2 separate regions of the Homo sapiens genome follow, and region 2 is linked to region 1. The links come from fine-mapping of genetic effects on gene expression. Tissue or cell type: whole blood. Region 1 holds a variant in brackets; the other region holds the start of a gene. All regions are shown on one strand. Distances are between the middles of the regions.

Evidence for each region. PIP is the estimated chance that this variant, and not a neighbour inherited with it, causes the effect.
Region 2: it holds the start of TMEM127, and the variant in region 1 is fine-mapped to the expression of TMEM127 in whole blood (TOPMed, PIP above 0.99).

The regions. Positions count from the first base shown.
Region 1 is chr2:96,241,347-96,244,026 of GRCh38, reverse strand. It overlaps STARD7-AS1 (STARD7 antisense RNA 1), which reads right to left. Exons shown (of 4, transcript NR_046322.1): 4 at 1,404-2,150. Among named protein-coding and RNA genes, the nearest start is that of TMEM127, 23 kb to the left of the region's middle. RefSeq lists enhancers at 1,864-1,913, 1,934-2,193. The variant C/G (reference allele first, on the strand shown) is at 1,517.
Region 2 is chr2:96,264,749-96,267,428 of GRCh38, reverse strand. TMEM127 (transmembrane protein 127) reads left to right here and starts at 1,432. Exons shown (of 4, transcript NM_017849.4): 1 at 1,432-1,560; 2 at 1,917-2,291. The coding sequence starts at 2,048. CIAO1 (cytosolic iron-sulfur assembly component 1) reads right to left here and starts at 1,204. Exons shown (of 7, transcript NM_004804.3): 1 at 940-1,204; 2 at 1-108. The coding sequence starts at 1,078. RefSeq lists enhancers at 1-15, 613-892, 1,123-1,312 and silencers at 1,543-1,592, 1,603-1,812, 1,863-2,172.

The sequences.
Region 1 (2,680 bases):
ATCACTGGAACCCAGGAGGCAGAAGTGGCAGTGAGCCAAAATTGAGCCACTGCCCTCCAGGCTGGGTGACAGAGCGAGACTCCATCTCAAAACAAAAACAAAAACAAAACAAAACGAACAACAACAGCAGCAAAAAAAGGCCAGGTTCAGTGGCTCACACCTGTAATCCCAGCACTTTCGGAGGCCGAGGTGGGCAGATCACTTGAGGTCAGGAGTTCGAGACCAGCCTAGCCGACATGGTGAAACTCCGGCTCTACTAAAAATACAAAAATTAGCTGGGTGTGGTGGCTTGCTCCTGTAGTACCAGCTACTCGGGAAGTTGAGGCAGGAGAATCACTTGAACCTGGGAGGCAGAGGTTGCAGTGAGCCAAGATTGCACCACTGCACTCCAGCCTGGGGGACCAGCCAGACCTTGTCTAAAAAAAAAAAAAAGGAAAGAAATAAATTCTTTTCCCATCTTTCTTTCTTTATTCTTATTTTTTGAGACAGCGTCTTCATCTGTTGCCCAAGGTAGAGTGCAGTGGCACAATCGCAGCTCATTGCAGCCTCTATCTCCTTAGGTTTAAGCAATCCTCACACTTCAGCCTCCAGGTTGCTGGGACTACAGGTGTGCAACACCACACCTGACTGATTTTTTTTTTTTCTTTTCTGTATTTTGTAGAGATGTGGTTTTGCCATGTTGCCCAGGCTGCTCTCAAACTCCTGGGCTCAAGCAATCTACACACCTCAACTTCCCAAAGTGCTGGGATTACCACCACACTTGGCCCTTTTCTCATTTCTAAAGTGGGTTGTCTTTTATTGTTGAGTTTTAAGAGCTTTTGTTTGTTTTTGCCATCCTGTGCCACTCTGTTGCACAGGATGGAGTGCCGTGGAGCCATCTGGGCTCACTGAAACCTCCAACTCCTGGGTTCAAGTGGTTCTTCTGCCTCAGTCTTGAGTGAGCCACTACGCCCGCCTAATTTTTGTATTTTTAGAGAGATAGAGTTTCACCGTGTTGGCCAGGCTGGTCTCAAACTCCTGACCTCAGGTGATCCGCCTGCCTCGGCCTCCCAAAGAGCTGGGATTATAGGCATGAGCCACCATGCCCGGCTGAGTTTTAAGAGTTTTTATATATTCTAGATACCAGCCCCTTATCAAGTGGCACAGAGCAACTATGGCAGAGGGCCTACAGAGATTAAGTTTGTGCCCCATAGATATACACTAAAACATTTTGGAGAAATGGAAAAATATGGATTGATACTTTCCATTGCAACAGAATTCTTTTAAAAGACAAAAGAACCTTAGATATCCTCACCAAATTTCAGGATGAAGAACACAGATATTGGAAATTCTTGCTCTAATCTTACCTAAGGGTGTATTAGTCAGTGCTGTTTTAGTTGCAAAAACTAAAAACTCAACTCAAATTAGTCATGGAAGAAAGGAATTTATTGGCTGAGCAGCGGAGAAGTTAAATCCTGAGGTGAATTTGGGGCTCCCAAGATGTCTGGGCCTCCTCACTCCCCCTCTTCCAGCTCCA[C/G]CCCTGATCACTGGCATCATTTCCTGGCCAGGCCCTTCTCTAGCCTTCAGTGTGGCAAGAGAGCAGTTTCATTTCCGGCTATCTCAGAGCACTGCATTCAACAGAAAACAAAGCAAGCCCTTTCCTTGGAGTTTACAAATGACTCAGGATTCACTCTGATTTGACCAAGAGTCAGAACCCTAATTGGCCAAGCCTGAAGTCACTTGTCTACCCCTGATACTGGGAATAGAATGCATGGATGAGAGGGAGGTGGGTGGTTCCATGAAAAGGAAATTCAAGCACTTTTCCTAAAAGAAGGGGGAATGGATGCTGAAACAACACGTCTCCCACAAAGGGAGCAGACACTGGGCTTGTGAAGCTGCCCCATACCTTCCCCACAGAACTGGGTTTCCCTCCTTGGTGCCCCTGACGGAGCCTTGTCTTCACCCTCCATTATGTATTCATCATGTGGCATCGTCACTGTTTCCTCCTCTGTCTCCAGAGTGTCTTCTCTTAGTTCTCAGCTAGTAAGAGAAGGAGGCTGGGCATGGTGGCTCATGCCTGTAATCCCAGCACTTTGGAAGGCCAAAGTGGAAGGATTGCTTGAAGCCAGGAGTTTGAGACCAGCCTGGGCAACAAAGTAAGACTCCCGTCTCTACAAAAAAGAAAAAAAAAGTTAGCTGGGCATGGTCATGTGCACCTGTGGTCCCAGCTACTTGGGAGGCAGAGGCAGGAAGACTGCTTGAGCCCAGGAGTTTAAGGCTGCAGCGAGCTATGATTGCACCACTGCACTCCAGCCTGGGTGACAGAGTGAGACCTCATCTATAAAATTTTTTTTTAAATGCAGGGGTGAAGGAAATAAGGAGGTAATTACTGAAAGAATGAAAGGTCATGCTAGAAATATACCATAAAATGCAATGGGGACTCAAAGAAGGGCAAGATTAAAGGGGACAGGAAATCTATTCTGGGGTGTCTTTGAGGGCCCTGAGAAATAAAACAAAGGAGTGGCAACAGGAACCAAAATATCCTCTTAATTACTGCTAGAGGGCTGGGCTGGAGGACACAGCTTTAGACCTGTGAACTAAGTGAGCTGCTAATGCAAATCCCACTAGGAGGCAGGCTCACCCGCCCAGCCATGGTAGCCCTCAACCAGAGAAAGCCTCCTTTAGTCCTGCAGGAGTGCAG
Region 2 (2,680 bases), 23 kb before region 1:
CATCAAAGCTGGCAGAGGCCAGGTAATTACCGCAGGGGGACCAGGCTACCTTCCGCACGGTGCGCTGGTGGCCTTCAGAAAGGACAGACTTGCAGATCCAGCTGTCACCTAAAGGCGGAGCGCAGGCCAGGCTCTGGAGCTGGGTGCAGCACCATGAAGCCATTCAATATCAGGGGCTAGCACTGGAATCAAGCTAGTGGGGGAAAGCTCAGGGAGTGTATTTCACAGCTTTTACAAAGATGCAAATGAATCTACTTCGTCTGGAAGCTTTTTTTTTTTTTTTTTTTTTTTTTTGAGACGGAGTTTTTGCTCTGATGCCCAGGCTGGGGTGCAATGGCACAATCTCGGCTCACTGCAATCTTCGCCTCCTGGGTTCAAGGGATTCTCCTGCCTCAGCCTCCCGAGTAGCTGGGATTACAGGTGCCCGCCACAACGCCCAGCTAATTTTGTAGTTTTAGTAGAGACGGGGTTTCACCATGTTGGCCAGGCTGGTCTTGACCTCTTGACCTCAGGTGATCTACCCGCCTCTGCTTCCCAAACTGCTAGGATTACAGGCGTGAGCCACCGCGCCCAACCTCTGGAGGCATCTTTCTAAAACAAATCTGATCTAAAATTGCTATTGGTTCCCCAATGCCCTCGGGATAAAATGTGACCATCCAGTCGCAAGTTACTCTGAAGGCCACTTTCCTAACACCTCTCTTTTCCCATTTTCCTGCCTCTGCAGCTAACACAATTCCCTTGACATTTCAGCTTGTCTGCTGACGTTTTTCCTCCCAACAGTCGCAGACTTCTTTGCCTGTAAAGCCCTTCTCGGCGTGGCTAACATCCCACTCTCCCTCCGCCAGGAACAGGTTCAGCCTCCCCTGCAGGCTGAGCGCCTGCACTACGCGCAGGCTGAGCCCTCAGCGCTGAGGGCCGCGCAACCAGGCTGGGCCTTACCCTCCGTGCCCCAGATGCGGATTCTCCGGTCGCCGCCGCACGAGGCCAGCAGGGTCCCCGCGGGGTTCCAGGCCAGGAACCAGCAGCGGGAGTCCGGGTGCGCCGGGACACGGCCCAGCAGCACCAGCGAGTCCTTCATGTCGGCCCGACGCAGGGGGAGGTGGGGGCGGGCAGAGTCCGCTGAGCAGACAGCGGGTCTCACCGCGCGCGTCTGCGTACCGCCCACTCCAGGCTTCCGCGGCCGACAGAGGCTCCCGCTTCCGCCGGAGGACCTGGGTCGCCCCGGAAACTCAACTGCCCACTGCTGCGGCCGCCATACCCTCTGGGAGTTGTAGTCGCTCCCCTCACCTCGGCAGGGAAAGCATCGCGGGACCGCCTCGAACTACCAGTCCCGTGAGGCCCTGCGCAGAGCCGGCGGCGCGCCCAGGCTGTGACGCGCGCGGGGGACGGGGCGGGGAGCCGGAGGAGGCGGAGGCAGAGGAGGAGGAAGCCGGAAGTGCATCGGCCCCGGGTCTGTCCGGGCGTTGCGGGATTGGGGCCTGGGAACGCTCGGCCCCCGGCAGCCGAGAAGCCCGTGACTGGGCTGAGCAGCACCATCCCAGCCCTGGGGCCTGCTGACTGGTGAGGAACAGTGGGCGGCGTGGGGAGGGTCTTTTCTGCGCACAGGTCGCACCCCAAACCGCCGGTCCCAGATCACGGGTCCCCGATCCCCGCGGCCCAGCCCGGTCCTCCGCCCCTCGGCATCCTCTGGCTGAGACCCTGACTCCGGGTCTTTGCTCTAGCAGTAGCCGATCCCCGATCCCTCCGCCCCCCACTCGAGTCTGCCCAGACCCCATCTGGCCCCTGGCCCTCTTCGGTTGTCGTCCCGCAGTCCCATTCCGGAGTCTCCTGTCTCCGCCCCCCGAATTCCCGCAGCCCTCCCCGTCTCCGTCAGCCCCGGGTCCCACCCCCCTATCCTCTGGTGTCAACCCTGACAGCCCAGTCCCGGCTTCACCTGCAGCGAACCCGGAGCGTTGCTATCCTCCACCGGACTGTCAGGCTCTGCGCGCCCCGCGGAGGTCGGCGGCGACCAGCAGCGACTGCGGAGCGACGGCGGGCGGCCCCGGGCATGTACGCCCCCGGAGGCGCAGGGCTGCCCGGCGGGCGCCGGCGGAGGAGCCCGGGAGGCAGCGCTCTGCCCAAGCAGCCGGAGCGTAGCCTGGCCTCGGCCCTGCCTGGCGCCCTGTCTATCACGGCGCTGTGCACTGCCCTCGCCGAGCCCGCCTGGTTGCACATCCACGGAGGCACCTGTTCGCGCCAGGAGCTGGGGGTCTCCGACGTGTTGGGCTATGTGCACCCGGACCTGCTGAAAGGTGAGGGTGCTGCGCGCTGGCCCTTAAAGCCTCGGTGGGGGACAGAATGTGTTCTGGCTGAAGCAGAGATAGCCAGGGACCAGACACTTGGTTGAAGGAAACGGCCCCATAACTGCCTGGTGTTCATGCCCACCAGGTGGCTCTGTTTGGGGTCCGGCCCCTCATTAATTCTGATGTTATTCAGCTAAGCACCTACTCCTCACAGCCATGTTAATCCGGACTGCTGCTATTTTAGGATTCTGCTGGAGGAAGGACGCTGTGTATCGAGAAAAGATAAGGGTGCTAGGTATCACAGTTAGCTGGCCTCTTCTAAGGATCCTGTGAAATACGGAAAAGCTTCTTTGGGGCAGACTGATTAATGGAGAAAAAGGAACTTTTAATATGACTAG